2 separate regions of the Homo sapiens genome follow, and region 2 is linked to region 1. The links come from fine-mapping of genetic effects on plasma protein levels. Region 1 holds a variant in brackets. A gene starts in the other region. All regions are shown on their reverse strands.

Region 1 (8,328 bases):
TGGCACAGTCATAGCTCACTGCAACCTCAGACTCATGGACTTAAGCAATCCTCCTGCCTCAGCCTCCTGAGTAACTAGGACTACAGATGTGTACCACCACACCCAGCTAATTTTTTAAATGTTTTGTAGAGACAGTGTGTTGCTGTATTGCCCAGGTTGGTCTCCTGGGTTCAAGCAGTCCTCCTGCCTCAGCCTCCCCAAGTGCTCAGATTACAGGTGTGAGCTACCTGTAAACCCAGGCCAGTCCTTTTTTTTTTTTTTTTTTTAATGACAGAGTCTTGCTCCATTGCCCAGGCTGGACTGCAGTGGTACAATCTTGGCTCACTGCAACCTCCGCCTCCCAGGTTCAAGCAATCCTCCTGCCTCAGCCCCCCTAGTAGCTGGGATTACAGGTACGTGCCACCATGCCCGGCTAATTTTTGTATTTTTAGTAGAGATGGGGTTTTGCCATGTTGGCCAGGCTGGTCTCGAACTCCTGACCTCAGGTGATTCACCCGCCTCGGCCTCCCAAAGTGCTGGGATTACAGGCATGAGCCACCACACCAGGCCCTTTTTTTTTTCTCTTTTGTTTTTTAATCAGATTACTGTTAGTTATTTCCCCTCTTGCCTCACTTCATGTCAGTTGAAATGTTGGAATACAGCATCTGAAAGTGCTGTCCACTGCCTTTCAGCTGTGCTGCTGGCTCTGAACTTTGCCCAAGGTGAACTTGCCTTTATCGGGTTGGGGTGGCTTGGGGTCTGGGTGACCCCTGAAGTCAGAATCAGAAGTGGCCACATTCGTGACTTGTGGTCTTCTGAGTATAAGAAATGTCCCCATTTGGATATCCTCACAGCCTCATGAAAGTAAGATTTTATTGAGTAGACCTGCTCATGGAAGGTGGGTAGTTTCCAAGTAGCACTGGTACACACCAAGTGAAATAACTGGTAATCCTGGCTGTCAGCGGAGCCAGGTCAACATGCTGGTATACGTGCTGTTTTTCCTTTGAGCTTTAAGTTCTTATGTACACATAACCAATCCAACCTACTTTTCATTAACACCATGTTAGGTATTATTTTCTTAGATTGATATTTTTCTTTTAAAGAAAAAAAAATCATAGGGTGGATTTTAAAATATTATTATTGAAACCAATGATTTCTTCTTTGATTTTAGATGGAAACCCAGAAGGGACCTTCCCCATCTTCTCTCTCTCTCTCTTTCTCTCTCTCTCTCTCTTTTTCTCCCTCTCCTTTCCTCTCCTCTCCTCTCCCCTCCCCTCCTCCCCTCGCCCCTCCCCTCCCTTCCCCCTCTCCTTCCTTCCTTCCTTCCTTCCTTCCTTCCTTTCCTTCTTTCCTTCTTTCTCTTTTCTTTCTTCTTTCTTTCTTGACAAGGTCTCACTCTGTCACCCAGGCTGGAGTGCAGTGGCATGATCTCGGTTCACTGCAACCTCCACCTCCCGGGTTCAAGTGATTCTTCTATGTCAGCCTCCCAAGTAGCTGGGATTACGGGCACCCACCACCACGCCCAGCTAATTTTTGTATTTTTAGTAAAGATGGGGTTTCACCATGTTGGCCAGGATGGTCTCAAACTCCTGACCTCAGGTGATCCACCCACCTCGACCTCCCAGAGTGCTGGGATTACAGGTGTGAGCCATGAGGCCCAGCTAATTTTTGTATTTTTTTGTAGGGACAGTATATCACCATGTTGCCCAGGCTGGTGTCGAACTCCTGGGCTCAAGCGATCCTCCTGCCTTAGCCTTCCAAGTGTGTGGAACATATATTTCTATGGACGTATTTTGCATCTGTAACTGCTTTGAAATATGTAGGTCTTCTTTTACACCTGCCAAAGTGTTGGATACACATTTCCTGAGGCCTTTCATATCATTCAGTCCATAAAATTACATAGTCCATCGGATCCTCTCAATGCACTGGTTGTAGCTCTGACAGTTTTCCTGAGGAAACCAGTCAGTTTGGGTTGCTGAATGCAGCCTATATAAGCACAAATTATGAGATCATGGTAAGAATGAAGGCAGGGTAGCAGGGTGGTTAAGAGCCTAGGATTTGAGGTCAGAAAGCTCAGGGCTTCCATTTGTACTTTGCCTCCTTCTTGGTGGCAAAGTAATGCTTGGCTTTTTTAAGGCTTGAATTCCTCATAAGTAAAAATGACAAAAATGATGAAATCCAGTAGTTTTTGTGGTAAGATGTAAATGAGAAATAAAGTACTCAGTATCATGTCAGAGAAAGAAAGTACTCAACGTGTCATCAAAAGTGAATATGGAGGTTGGGCGCAGTGGCTCACACCTGTAATCCCAGCACTTTGGGAGGCTGAGGCAGGTGGATCACTTGTCATCAGGAGTTCAAGACCAGCCTGGCCAACATGGTGAAACCCTGTCTCTACTAAAAATACAAAAAATTAACTGGGCAAGGTGGTACACGCCTGTAATCCCAGCTACTCTGGAGGCTGAGGCAGGAGAATTGCTTGAACCCAGGAGACGGAAGTTGCAGTGAGCCAAGATCGTGCCACTGCACTCCAGCCTGGGTGACAAAGTGACACTCCATCTCAAAAAAAAAAAAAAAAAAGTGATTATGGGCTTTGTGACTTGGGATCTTAAGTGAAAGACACATCTTCCTTAGTGGAATTTTAGAAGACATACGAAAGTTTCTGTTTTTGGGTTTTGTTTCTGACACCAGTTCTATCCTAGTCACATACACTATTAGAGACCTTATAGAAGACCTCATAGGATTCATATAATTAAACAGCATCATAAAGTGATTTGTGGCTGGGCACGGTGGCTTAACACCTGAAATCCTAGCACTTTGAAAGGCTGAAGCAAGAGGATCACTTGAGGGCAGGAGTTTGAGACCAGCCTGCACAATATAGTGACACTCTATCTCTTAAATAATAAATGAAATAATAAATAATGAGGAATAAGGAATAAATAATTATTAATAATAATAAATCCAAAAATAAAGTGATTTGCTTTTTTTCTCATCCTTATTGTACATGGTTAACAAAGCATGTAATAGCACAAAGATTGAATTTCATGCTATACTGTCTGCCTCTAATCAGACATAATTATTTTTAAGAATGTACAAAAAATTGGGGGTGGTAGTATTACCAGCTTGCCTAATAACTCCTAACAGAATCTTTAAAAGACACTATTTGCCATTTGTCACTCTCTTGCTTTCCTACAAAACTCACTGGCTTGTTGAGGAAACATTATATTAATGAGTTACTTTGGTCCTTTGAAGCTTATCCATCAGGCTGATTGAATAGAAATACGTACTCAGTACTTTGTGAGAAATGAACATATTTTTCTGAAAGTGAGGCTAGAGTAATGTTCACATGTGGTACAAATAACAGATGCTTGGGACTCAGCCTCAGTGACAGTTAACAAGCAATTTATGTTCTGGCCATGCGGGGGGGAGGACACAAAACAAATCACACCCTCAGTTTTTGTATTTATTTTTTCTCAATCAAGGTATCATCTGACCCTTTCCATTTGGCAAGTGTGGGCATTTTCCATTACAACATTCTGTTTTAAACACCTTCACTACCCCATTGAACTCATTCGATACCACAACATGGAATACTTCTAATGACTCACATTTACAAGAATATGTTTATAATGATAAAAAATATTTGCTAACAGATTTCAGAAAGGATTCGTAAATTATTGACAGATAACTAATGACTCTAAGGCATCTTTGCCAAAATCCAAAAAGTATTCAACAATGTCACCTGAACCCATATTGCATGATGATGTTAAAGTTTAGTTAATGAATTACAGTCAGTGTAAACTTCGTGACAACACTATTCCAAGACATTATGACATATCTATTAGGAATTGATATTCCTGCAAAATTGGATTTATCATTAACCCCTTGCATGAACAAACTAGAAAGGCCCTTTCAGTATGTTTATAATATGGGTTTATTAACAACAAACACCTTAAAATTTTCATCATTCAAATAGACTGATTGCATCAGATATGGAGGAGTTTTTAACAGAAGTCTTATAAGTACTGAACCAGTTAGTTACTGCCAAAGCATTGCTTAGTAGTGCATTTTTGCTTGTACCCTTTGCTAACATAGGCATTTGTCACTGATTTTGTACAGAACCTGAGCTAGGGTTGGCACTTTTTATTTTTTATCAACTTTCTTAATAATCCTCTCCTCTGCCAAATTATATAAGATGATGGAATGGTACATTTTGGAAAGGAGTGACTGAGTAAAGATTTCTTCTCATTCTTTTAAATAACTGTGAGAAATGTGGCACCTGGCAGGAAAGATAAGTGACTTTTACACAATACGATTATGGCCAGGTAAATATTACTCACTTTTTATAACACCAATAATTAAACAGAGCCTTAGTCAATCTTTTGGCAATTGAATGTTTAAGACTTTACTCTCTTGTAGGCTTGTGCTGAGTTCCCCA[T/C]GTTTATCACAATCTATGATCTGTGTCTGATGGCTCATAGTTCATATCTTTATTTAGAGTACAAGAAATAAACTCAATATCATTTTGTTTCAATTTAAGGCCTTTAAAGACATTTAAGCAAACAACTAAATGATCTAAATTGTTTTTAAAAGAGGAAACTGTAGCATATCCAAAGTGATTTCCCTAGGAATCACAGCATAATTATTATTAAAACACAAAGCAACAAAATAGATCTCAAGCATTTTTTTTTTTTTTTGAGACAAAGTCTTGTTCTGTTGTCCAGGCTACAGTGCAGCCGCACAATCTCGGCTCACTGCAACCTCCATCTCCTGGGTTCAACCTATTCCCCTGCCTCAGTTTCCCAAGTAGCTGGGACTGCAGGCACATGTCACCATACCCGGCTAATTTTTGTATTTTTCGTAGAGATAGGGTTTTGCCATGTTGGCCAAGCTGGTCTCAAACTCCTGACCTCAGGTTATCCACCTGCCTTGGCCTCCCAAAGTGCTGGGATTACAGGCATGAGCCACCACACCCAGCCATCTCAGGCACTCTTAATTCATGAAACTGGATGTTATATATTACCTAATAGTCTGGCAGACTACATAAATAAAACAATCATTCAAATAATAGATTTTCCTCTAGACTGAAATATTTCATATGGGTGAAACTTACATGGGGCTATATAACTCAATTTTGATTTATGTTTCAGTGATTTTAATCAACTTTTTTTTTTGCCCTCTCAGTCTTTTGCGAAATAAGAAAATACAAATAATATTATTTTTAATAAAAAAAAATGTATCTGGGCATGATGGCTCACACCTGTAATCCCAGCACTTTGGGAGGCTTAGGCAGGAGAATAACTTGAGCCCAAGAGTTCAAGACCAGCCTGAACAACATAATGAGACCTCATCTCTATAAAAAATAAACAAAATTAGCTATATGGTGGCACACACCATGTTGGCCAGGCTGGTCTCAAACTCTTGACCTCAAGTAATCCACCGGCCTCGGCTCCCAAAGTGCTGGATAACAGGCGTGAGCCAACACGCCCAGCCAATTAACTCTTTCCTTTTTGGTTTTATCCTTTCTTTCTTAAATATAATAGAACATATAACATATCTGCATTTATGCTATTTTGACTAATCACAGATCTACAGGTGTGTGGCACAGGTGTGTGCCAGCGTTTTACATGGTGAAACCCTGGCTCTACTAAAAATACAAAAATTAGCTAGGTGTGTTGGTGTGCACCTATAATCCCAGCCATTTGGGAGGCTGAGGCACGAGAACTGCTTGAACACAGGAGGCGGATGTGGCCACTGCACTCCAACCTGGGTGACAAAGCATCTCAAAAAAAAAAAAAAGAAAAGAAAAAGAAAAAGAAAGAAAGAGTTAATTAAAAGACACTGAGGATACTTAAAAAGGTCACTTTATACTATATGAAATTGTAAAACCAAAAAGAGTTTCAAAAACATAGGCTCAGTTTCTACCTTTTTTATTTCCATGAATCTGACAACTTATACCCTCAAGCATTATTTTGATACTAAATATTAGCATTTTAGATTTTCCTGATCCGTTTGCATTTTTCAGAAGGTCACGACCTATCCACTTTTTCTATATTTACCTAATAATTTTTTTAAAAAGAGGCTTATGTGGTGGCTCATGCCTGTAATCCTAGCACTTTGGGAGGCCGAGGTGGGTGGATCACCTGAGTCGGGAGTTTGAGACCAGCCTGACCAACATGGAGAAAACTCATCTCTACTAAAAGTACAAAATTAGCTGGGCGTGGTGACACGTGCCTGTAATCCCAGCTACTTGGCAGGCTAAGGCAGGAGAATCGCTTGAACCCGGGAGGCAGAGGTTGCAGTGAGCCAAGATCGTGCCATTGCACTCCAGCCTGGGAAACGAGTGAAACTCTGTCTCAAAAAAAAAAAAAAAAATTGTGCCTTTTTGCTTTAAGACCATTTAGTATAATCTCAAGCTTTAAGATCATACTAAATGATCTTAAAACTTTATTTTACTTATACTAATATTAGGATACATTAGAATTGGAACAGCTCTGTAAATAGAAATGTGATTTTTGACTACATTTTCAAGCCTTCTTTACATCTGTACACTCACATATTATTTCTACACTTTTTTATCTTCATTTTTTCTTTTTGCCTTTTTAAAAAATAGAGATGAGGGTCTCACTATGTTGCCCAGGCTGGTCTCGAACTCCTGGCCTCAAGTGATCCTCCCATCTCAGCCTCCCAAAGTGCTAAAATTACAGGCATAAGCCACTGTGCCTGGCCATTTCTACACTTATTGAGCACATAATTATGCCAGACGCTCTTTTAAGTGCTTTACATACGTTCTATCACTTAGTTTAAAAAAAATTTATTTACCTCTATTTTATATATGAGAAAAATTAATGCTTGAAAATTTTAAGTAATTTGACCAATGCTACACAGATGGTATATGATTGATAGAGCTGGACTCAAATCCATGTCTGACTTCAATGCTATTATATTGCTTGAAATGCTATTATAATGCTTGACAAATTATTTTGTGAATTTAATGGTATGTATGCCTGGAACATGGCAGCCAATACATTTGCTATCAATATTAATATTGCTGGTATACACTGGAGAAACTCAAAGAACTGTAAACAGAGTTGGTAATGCACTGTGTCCTTATATATGTCCTTCAGTAAACATATGCATAATGCCCCAAATGAAACTCATTCATTTTCTTTTTTTTTTTCTTTTTGAGACGGGGTCTCCCTCTTGTTGCCCAGGCTGGAGGGCAATGGCACGATTTCAGCTCACTGCAACCTCTGCCTCCCAGGTTCAAATGATTGTCCTGCCTCAGCCTCCCGAGTAACTAGGATTACAGGCTCTTGCCACCACAACCAGCTGATTTTTTGTATTTTTAGTAGAGACAGGGTTTCACCATGTTGGGCAGGCTGGTCTCGAACTTTTGACCTCAGGTGATCCACCTGCCTTAGCCTCCGAAAGTGCTCGGATTACAGGTGTGAGCCACCATGCCTGGCCAGATATTTTTCATTTTGAATGCCACTTAAAAAAAAAAAAAAAGAATAATAGGCCGAGTGCAGTGCCTCATGTCTGTAATCTCAGCACTTTGGGAGGCTGAGGTGGGAGGATCACTTGAGCCCAAGAGTTCAAGGCTACAGTGAGCTACAGTGAGTACAGTGATTATGCCACTGTACTCCAGCCTGGGGGATATTGAGACCTTGTGTTGGAACAAAAAAAAGAGTGAAATATCAGGATTCATATTCTAGAAGGAAAAAAAGTGAAGTATTCATGGGAAGAATTTATTGTTGCATGAGCAATCAAGCAACTACATGAGTGAAAGAATCAAGCAAAAAAGGAGAAAATAAAGTATAAATTTATGATCACATTTATGCATTTATATAAAAGTCTGTATGCAAAAAAAGAGATTAAAACAATTTAGTGGACAAGCAAAAGGAAAGATACATGAATCACCTGTAATCCTGACATTCTGAGATCATGTTTTAAAGTATTTTCTTCTAGGAGATATCTGTGTATTTAAATATTTAAATATTGGCTGGTCGTGTAATTCCAGCACTTTGGGAGGCCAAAGCAGGACGACCACTTGAACCCAGGAATTCAAGAGCAGCCTGAACAGCAAAATGAGACCCCATCTCTACAAAAACTAAAAAAGTTAACCAGGTGTGATGGCATGAACCTGTGGTCCCAGCTAGGCAGGGGCCTAAGGCAGGAAGATTTTTTGAGCCTGGGAGGTTGAGGCTGCAGTGAGCCCTGTTCTCTCCACTGCATTCTAGCCTAGGTGACAGAGTGAGATGTTGTCTCAAAACAAAAAACAAAAGCAAAACCCTAAATTAAATATAGACAAAACTATAACATATTGTGTATATTGTTTTATATCCCGCTGTT
Region 2 (8,263 bases), not on the chromosome of region 1:
CATAGAGAGGTGGGGCCTAGGCCCCAGCTTGTGGCCGACCCCGCCCATCCTCGAGCAGGTACCAGGGCCACGTGGGTGCATCGCTGATCGTGGGCGGCGTAGACCTGACTGGACCGCAGCTCTACGGTGTGCATCCCCATGGCTCCTACAGCCGTCTGCCCTTCACAGCCCTGGGTGAGCGCTTCTGTCCCTTCTCCTCGAACTCTGCCCCTGTGACCTTGGCCTCACTCCAAACGGCGTCGCAGCGGTTGACTTCAGATGCTTCTCCTGCCTTCAGGCTCTGGTCAGGACGCGGCCCTGGCGGTGCTAGAAGACCGGTTCCAGCCGAACATGACGGTGAGCGGCCTCTGTCCCCGACTTTGTGGTCGCTGGTGGGATGTGCACCCGGGAGCTGGGGGAGCACAGGACCCTGGCCCAGTGCGGGTGGCTAAGGCTTGTCGGAGGAGGTGACCACTGAAGGGTGAGTGGAGTAAGGGCAGAGAAGTGCGGTCCCGACATAACACCGTCCAATACCAAAGCCTGCACGGCTGGGAGAAGTCGAAGCTCACAGAGGATCTTTAGGAGCCGAGGGCGGAGAGAAGGACCAGTAGGGTCCTACTTATATCAACGTCTGGAGCCTAGATTTTGTTTGGGGTGGGATGGAAGCAGGTGATGTTGCCTCAGAGGTGGCTAAGGCTCAGAGGGAGAAACACAGTGGGGGTTTGGAGGGCAAGACCAGATTGGGTAAGTGGACAGGCAAGTCCCCAGGCTGTAGCCTAAGTTAACAGCAGAGAGAGCCCGTTAGGTCTCACACACCCATCACCGCAGCTGGAGGCTGCTCAGGGGCTGCTGGTGGAAGCCGTCACCGCCGGGATCTTGGGTGACCTGGGCTCCGGGGGCAATGTGGACGCATGTGTGATCACAAAGACTGGCGCCAAGCTGCTGCGGACACTGAGCTCACCCACAGAGCCCGTGAAGAGGTGAGAGCTGGAGATCGGGGACCACAGGGATGTGTGGGGCTATAGCAGGGGAGATAGGGGGCTGCAAAAAGGGGATGGGCCACATGACAGGCCCATGTTCAGAGGCTGTCCCTCCTCCCTCCCAGGTCTGGCCGCTACCACTTTGTGCCTGGAACCACAGCTGTCCTGACCCAGACAGTGAAGCCACTAACCCTGGAGCTAGTGGAGGAAACTGTGCAGGCTATGGAGGTGGAGTAAGCTGAGGCTTAGAGCTTGGAACAAGGGGGAATAAACCCAGAAAATACAGTTAAACAGATGGCTGTGTCATTCTTGAGTGGAATGGGGTGGGCAGGCAGCCAGCAGGGCTCTGTAGCTAAGGCGTCCCTGCAGGGGCCATTACCTACCATAGCTCTAGTGTCTGGCCTAAGAGATGCCCTTCACCCATAACCTCAGGCACCTACAACTCCAGAACCCCAGCCCTGGCCAGCATTGCAGGCTTGGTCTCCACCCAAACCTTCCTTCTGACTCCACACTTGAAGGCTCCCCCACCACTCCACTGTCTTGCTCTTGCCCTCTAGTCCACTGGAGACTTGTAAATTATGAAATACCCCATGTACTACCCCCTCCTAGAGACTTTCCATGGCTCCTCAGTGGCCCAGGACAAAGCTCATACCTTTCAATCAGGCCCCCACAGGCCCCACTGAGGGCTAAAGTGCTGACAAGAGGAGCCGCTCCCTGACTCCAAGGCAAGTTCTCACCAAGCACTCCTCAACCTCGCAACATCTTTACCTGTGACACCCCTTAGATGACGAGGCATGCCTGCACTGCTCACGTGAAGCTCGTCTTCTGTCTGCACATGCTGGGCTTGTGACTCCAAGTTTTCCAGGCTAATAAGGGTCACAGGACTCACATGGGGAGAGATGACACGTTTCTCCAACAAACCTTTGCTGGGCCCCTGCTGAGTCTCAGGCCTGGCTGCTGGGTGCCAGCAAGAGCATCCTGTCCTCAGCGAGAACGGCTGAACTCCGCTGGAGCTTCAGAAATGTCAGGGAGAGTCTACCCAGGGCCCAGGGAGGGTCTATGCCGGGCTGCACATCCCCAGGCCGCTGAGTGTGCTCCCTGCACCCCAACATTCTATTAATGAACATTTGTAAATGTAACAGAAAAGTAGAAAGAGTTGTATATTGAATACCCTTATACTGTCAGGTCACCACAGACCTGACAGTATTTTGTTATATTTGTTTTATCATCTATTCATCCCTCTATCCATTAATTCATCGCTCCTTTTTTTTTTTTTTTTTTTTTTTTTGAGACGGCGTCTCGCTCTGTCACCCAGGCTCTGGAGTGCAAATATTTTGTTATATTTGTTTTATCATCTATTCATCCCTCTATCCATTAATTCATCGCTCCTTTTTTTTTTTTTTTTTTTTGAGACGGAGTCTCGCTCTGTCACCCAGGCTCTGGAGTGCAGTGGCGCAATCTCAGCTCACTGGAAGCTCCGCCTCCCAGGTTCACGCCATTCTCCTGCCTCAGCCTCCCGAGTAGCTGGGACTACAGGTGCCCGCCACCACGCCCGGCTAATTTTTTTTTTTTTTGTATTTTTAGTAGAGACGAGGTTTCTACTGAACCTGTTAGCCAGGATGGTCTTGATCTCCTGACCTCATGATCCGCCCGCGTCGGCCTCCCAAAGTGCTGGGATTACAGGCGTGAGCCACCGTGCCCAGCCAATTCATCTCATTTTTTGGCTGATGCTGTTTCTTTGAGATGGGGTCTAGCTCCATCGCCCAGGCCGGAATGCAGTGGTGCACTCATGGCTCACTGCAGCCTTGAACTTAAGGGCTCAAGTGATCCCTCCTGCCTCAGCCTTCTGAGTTGCTGGGACTACAGGTGTGTACCATCATACCCAGCTCATTTCTTAATTTAAAAAAATTTTTTTTGTAGAGACAGGGTTTCATGATGTTGCTCAGGCTGGTCTCGAACTCCTGGAATCAAGCCTCCTACGTCTGCCTCCCAAAGTTTTGGGATTACAGGTGTGAGCCACCACACCCAGCCCTGATCTGTTCTTGAATCAGTTAAAGCCCTCACACTCCCAGAAGGCCGCCAGCCAATGCACCTGTTGGAACTTTGCACACAGGGTGTCTTCTCCCTTCAAGCTTGGTCTGCAGCTCAGTAACAAATGGGCTACAGACACCAGGGGCTTGCCCATGGGAGCCCCAAGGCCTAAAGAGGGTGGCAGAGATTTGATGTCTGTCACTCTCCACCTGCAGCCTCAGTCCACGGTCGGCCAGGCACCAAGAGCTCACACTTTGCCCTCCTAAATGCCAGGCCCTTCATAAGTATCATCTCATTGTTAAGAGCGGAGGCTTCAGCGCCAGACAAATGCGAGTTTGTGTACAACTCAACCACGTGCTGGTGGGAGAGTCACCATCTCTGAGCAGACCTGTGACTCCTGTTCCAAATGGACGAGGAACCACTGCGATGATGTGTTAGGACTCCCAGCCTGCCAGAACCTCACAGCCCCTGGCCCTTCACAGCAAAGTTGACCGCAGTGAGCATTCCATCCACCAGTCAGAACACCCTGGACGCTGAGCGGCCTTCTCTGAAAGCCTGGTGCCTTTGTTAGCCCTGGGTGACTCCTGTGATCCCAGCCACCAGGTTGTCACTATAGACCTAATTTAACCATCTGTCCTCAGTACCGAGGGCTCAACATTTGGAATGGGAGGTGGTTCTGGGAGCCAATTAGAGGCCAGGCTTTGGGAGGTGGCAGAGGTGAGTCTCACACCTGGGCTCTGTCTGATAAGTCTAGGTCTCGGTCAGGGGACCTTGGCCTAAAGGGCCTGTCTTGCCTGGAGCGTGGGAGGGGGCTGAGTCTACACAGCTGGCCTGGCCTCAGGCCTGGAGCTTTAGCTCAAGGACGAGAAGACCCATAAAGCCAGACCCAGCTCCCAACCTCACATCTGCCACGATGTTGCTGCTCAGCCTGACCCTAAGCCTGGTTCTCCTCGGCTCCTCCTGGGGTGAGTGGGCCAGGACCAGCCCTGATTCAGCCCTGGGAGCAACTCAGCTCCCAGCAACAGCCCAGGGAAGGAGCTAGGCTGGCTGGAAGGGACGAAGGTGGACAGAGTGGGCAAAAGAAACAGGATATGCCAGGGCAGTGGAGCAGGGAACAGGCCTGCAGGGCTGGGAGGGGGCAAGAGGTGGGGTGGTCTCACAAATAGGACCAGAGATTGAGCCAGGCCCTGGAGCCCGGGAGGGTTTAGGAAGCTGAGACAGGAAGACCTGTCCATGTCTTTTAGAAAGAACCTTCTGGCTGCATGAAGGGTATGAACTGTTCAGGTCGGGAGGGGGCAGAGAGACCAGGGGTAGAGATGGGGAACAGCGGGGACTAGGCTGGAGACAGATGTAGGAGAACAGCAGGGCTGGGGGACTGGGTGGATAGGGATAACCAAGATAGCTGTGGGGCCCGAAGGTGCTTGCATGTACCCTGTTGGGGAAGGGGTAGTGCTGTACCCTCTCGACAGACCTCTCTGGGGTGCACAGCCTGGGGCACCCAAAAGGAGGTGGGGAAAGATGGGCTGAGGCATGGGAAGCAGGTCCTCATTAGCCCAATGGCCAGGCTGCGGCATTCCTGCCATCAAACCGGCACTGAGCTTCAGCCAGAGGATTGTCAACGGGGAGAATGCAGTGTTGGGCTCCTGGCCCTGGCAGGTGTCCCTGCAGGTACACCACCAGAGGGGTGGGCAGGGTCCTGGGTACGTCATGCCTAGGGGCAGCCTCAGCAGCCCACCCCCACTCTGACCTCTGAGCCCTGACCACAGGACAGCAGCGGCTTCCACTTCTGCGGTGGTTCTCTCATCAGCCAGTCCTGGGTGGTCACTGCTGCCCACTGCAATGTCAGGTGAGTGCCTGCATTCCACCTGCCCCGCCCCTCGCCTCTTCCTGCCTCCTCCCCTGGCTGTCCCCCTCTCGCGCTGGCCTCCCTGCAGCTGCCTAATCCCACCCCCTTGCAGCCCTGGCCGCCATTTTGTTGTCCTGGGCGAGTATGACCGATCATCAAACGCAGAGCCCTTGCAGGTTCTGTCCGTCTCTCGGGTGAGTGCCTGGGCTGCAGACACGGAGGAAAAGTGGGCAGTGCAGGTGGGTGGGTGCTGGGAACGAGGAATTCAGGACATGCCCTGGCCTACCCTGCTCAGCACCCATCAGAACATGGACTGTTTCTGACCCCACAGGCCATTACACACCCTAGCTGGAACTCTACCACCATGAACAATGACGTGACGCTGCTGAAGCTCGCCTCGCCAGCCCAGTACACAACACGCATCTCGCCAGTTTGCCTGGCATCCTCAAACGAGGCTCTGACTGAAGGCCTCACGTGTGTCACCACCGGCTGGGGTCGCCTCAGTGGCGTGGGTAGGGACTCAGGCCAAAGCTCAGGGTGGGAGGACTGGGGTGGGGACCAGTGTTCTGGGCCCCATGTGACCACCCCTCCTGGCCCACAGGCAATGTGACACCAGCACATCTGCAGCAGGTGGCTTTGCCCCTGGTCACTGTGAATCAGTGCCGGCAGTACTGGGGCTCAAGTATCACTGACTCCATGATCTGTGCAGGTGGCGCAGGTGCCTCCTCGTGCCAGGTAAGCCCCAGCACCCGCTCCTCTGCGCTGTCCTGTGGTATACCTCCCCAACCCCCCCTACTCAATTCTCCCTCCCTCTTCCCTCTCAGGGTGACTCCGGAGGCCCTCTTGTCTGCCAGAAGGGAAACACATGGGTGCTTATTGGTATTGTCTCCTGGGGCACCAAAAACTGCAATGTGCGCGCACCTGCTGTGTATACTCGAGTTAGCAAGTTCAGCACCTGGATCAACCAGGTCATAGCCTACAACTGAGCTCACCACAGGCCCTCCCCAGCTCAACCCATTAAAGACCCAGGCCCTGTCCCATCATGCATTCATGTCTGTCTTCCTGGCTCAGGAGAAAGAAGAGGCTGTTGAGGGTCCGACTCCCTACTTGGACTTCTGGCACAGAAGGGGCTGAGTGACTCCTTGAGTAGCAGTGGCTCTTCCTAGAGTAGCCATGCCGAGGCCGGGGCCCCCACCCCTCCTCCAGGGCAACCCCTTGGTCCTACAGCAAGAAGCCAGAACTGTTGGAATGAATGGCAGCCCTCCCTGGAGAGGCAGCCTGTTTACTGAATACAGAGGATACGTTTACAAACTGAATACGCATAATAAATAACTGCACATTCTCCATCCACAGGCCATGGCATGAAGGCCCAAGTGGGTCTATCAAAGGCCCACATCTCCAAACCCCCTGTCCTGCCCTCAGGACCAGGCCCACCCTGGGCAAGAGAGAACGTAAGCCCCAGGGCTTCAGGTCCCCAGAGACACTTGGGGAACTGGGGGGAAATTCTGAGGCCATGGGGCTTGGTTCTCCACTGCCTCCTGCCCAGGGGGCATTGGGGACGGTAGGAGGATGTGTCTAAGGCATAGTCGACTTGGCACAGAGTGGTCTCTTTAGTTTTGTTTCCCACTGGAGGTGGCACATGCAGGAAAAGGGCCTGGCCCAGGCTGCCGACCGGCAGAAGCTGAGTGGGAACCAAACCCTCCTGCAATGGCAGGGGCCCTGCCGTCAAGCTAAGGCCAAAGCTGGGCCCTGGCCCCATTCTACCCACTGAAGGCAGCTGTGGAGGAAGGGGCTTGGGTTCCAGCCTGGTTTGTGGTAGGGGGAGATACCACAAAAGAAATGGGGATGGTTCTGGCTCAGGCCTCTGGGAAAGCAGCCACCCAACCCCACCCACCTCCCGCAGGGGCTCCTTCCAGCTTGAGGCTCAGTGGGACCCAGACTGGAAGGTTAATGCTGTGAAGGGAAGCAGCACAGGGTGGACGGGGCAAGGCCAGCTGTGAGAAGGCAGTGCCCCTGGCACCCTGGTTTCAGAGGCAGGTCACACAGTATGGCTAAGTTCCAGGGAGGGGTGCGCAGAAGCTCAGCAGAAGGGGAGAGGTGAGCAGCCCGGGACCCTCCCCCAGGGCGGCAACTCCTACCTTCCCATGTCCTCATGGAGGACTACAGGTGTGCACCATGGGTGGGTGTGCACGATGGGCAGGTGTGCACGATGGGCGTGCAGTGATCACTCCCAGGCTGCCAACACCCATGCAGACACCAGATGGCGCCTTCGTGCAGCTGCAGAGGAGGGAGCAACAGAGCCTGAAGGGAAAAGGCAATGGGGCTGCACCAAAGGATAGAACCCAGGCTGACACTCGACCCTAATCGGGAGGACCCCCTTCCCTCTGCCTTGGCCCCCAGGTGCCCCATTCCCCAGGTAGCAGCAGTGGGGCTCCCTTTAACCACCCCCAGTTGGGAAGGAGGCACCTGGGGAATGGAATGGACATCCAACGGGGAGAGGGAGGTAGCGGTGGGCTCTACAAAGAAGGCACCAAGGGCGGTGGGCTGAGACCCCTCAGAATCTGGAGAGGCTGGAGCCTGGGCAAGCCGATGACCAGCATGGCCACACAGTCCAGAAGGGTGAAGGTCCACGCCATGGCCCTCCACCAGAGGTCCTGGGACCAGGAAGGCTCCCTGGAGGCACCATGAAGGAAGACAGATCTTGGCTGGGAGGTGGAGGGCTGTTTCGACCTAGCCAGGGGCTACGGGTCCAGTCAAGGCACAAGCTTTGTGCCTACCAGGGTCTCCCACTGGAGCATAATCTTAAGGATCAGGATGCATGGGAATGTGTGAAACCAGGGAGAAGGGCTCTGTGGAGGAAAGGGGGTCCCAGAAGTAACTGTCCCAAAGGGTCCTGAGGCCACAGGACACTCCACCCAGCACTGCAGTTCCCTTTGATTGGGGAAAAGTCAAAGGGCAAGGGAGACAGTGAAGGCCAGGTCCTATCCCTTCCCAACTCCACCAGAGCAGCTGCCCACCAAGAGGGGTATCAGTGCCAGGCCAGGCTCCCAGTTCAGGGGGAGTCACAGCCCCCTGTGCTACCTCTACTCTGTCACACCTGGCCCAGGCCCATGGTGAGGACAGGGGCTGCTGAAGGCACAGAGAAAGGGCTGGAGCCAGACATTCTTCACCTACTGTGGGCCACATAGGCCTATCTCCAGAGAGGGCATCGGACCCAGATGGCACCACAGTGTGTGGCCAGGCTGGGTCGTGCTGCATGTGTGCACAGCCAGGCGGCTCAGCCATTGTATTGCTGCTGGTAGCGCAGGTTGAGCTCCCGCAGCTCCCGTTCCCGCACACGGCGTGACTTATTGGAGCGTGTGGAGCGGCTGGAACGCGTGGACTGGGCAGATTTGGTGCTCTGGCAGCGCGAGGAGGCACGTTTAAG

Which allele goes with the higher level. Positions count from the first base shown, and alleles are read on the strand shown. Strength reflects both the effect of a copy and how common the allele is.
With allele T in place of C in region 1, the plasma level of the protein whose gene starts at base 3,894 in region 2 is lower (weak association).

What was found. PIP is the chance, under the fine-mapping model, that this variant and not a neighbour inherited with it causes the effect. The UK Biobank Pharma Proteomics Project read protein levels with antibody pairs (Olink). The fine-mapping took linkage between variants from a reference panel, not from the people measured, so its PIPs are less certain.
Region 2: CTRL starts here. The variant in region 1 is fine-mapped to the plasma level of the CTRL protein (UK Biobank, PIP 0.97).

What each region holds. Positions count from the first base shown.
Region 1 is chr1:200,017,738-200,026,065 of GRCh38, reverse strand. No RefSeq gene overlaps it. Among named protein-coding and RNA genes, the nearest start is that of NR5A2, 5.8 kb to the left of the region's middle. The variant T/C (reference allele first, on the strand shown) is at 4,415.
Region 2 is chr16:67,927,493-67,935,755 of GRCh38, reverse strand. CTRL (chymotrypsin like) reads left to right here and starts at 3,894. Exons shown (of 7, transcript NM_001907.3): 1 at 3,894-3,955; 2 at 4,555-4,658; 3 at 4,757-4,836; 4 at 4,949-5,030; 5 at 5,168-5,348; 6 at 5,438-5,571; 7 at 5,661-6,182. The coding sequence starts at 3,904. The coding sequence ends at 5,822. PSKH1 (protein serine kinase H1) reads right to left here. Exons shown (of 3, transcript NM_006742.3): 3 at 6,080-8,263. The coding sequence ends at 8,114. PSMB10 (proteasome 20S subunit beta 10) reads left to right here. Exons shown (of 8, transcript NM_002801.4): 5 at 59-174; 6 at 278-336; 7 at 808-959; 8 at 1,085-1,250. The coding sequence ends at 1,196. RefSeq lists enhancers at 137-336, 4,403-4,919, 4,920-5,437, 6,200-6,910.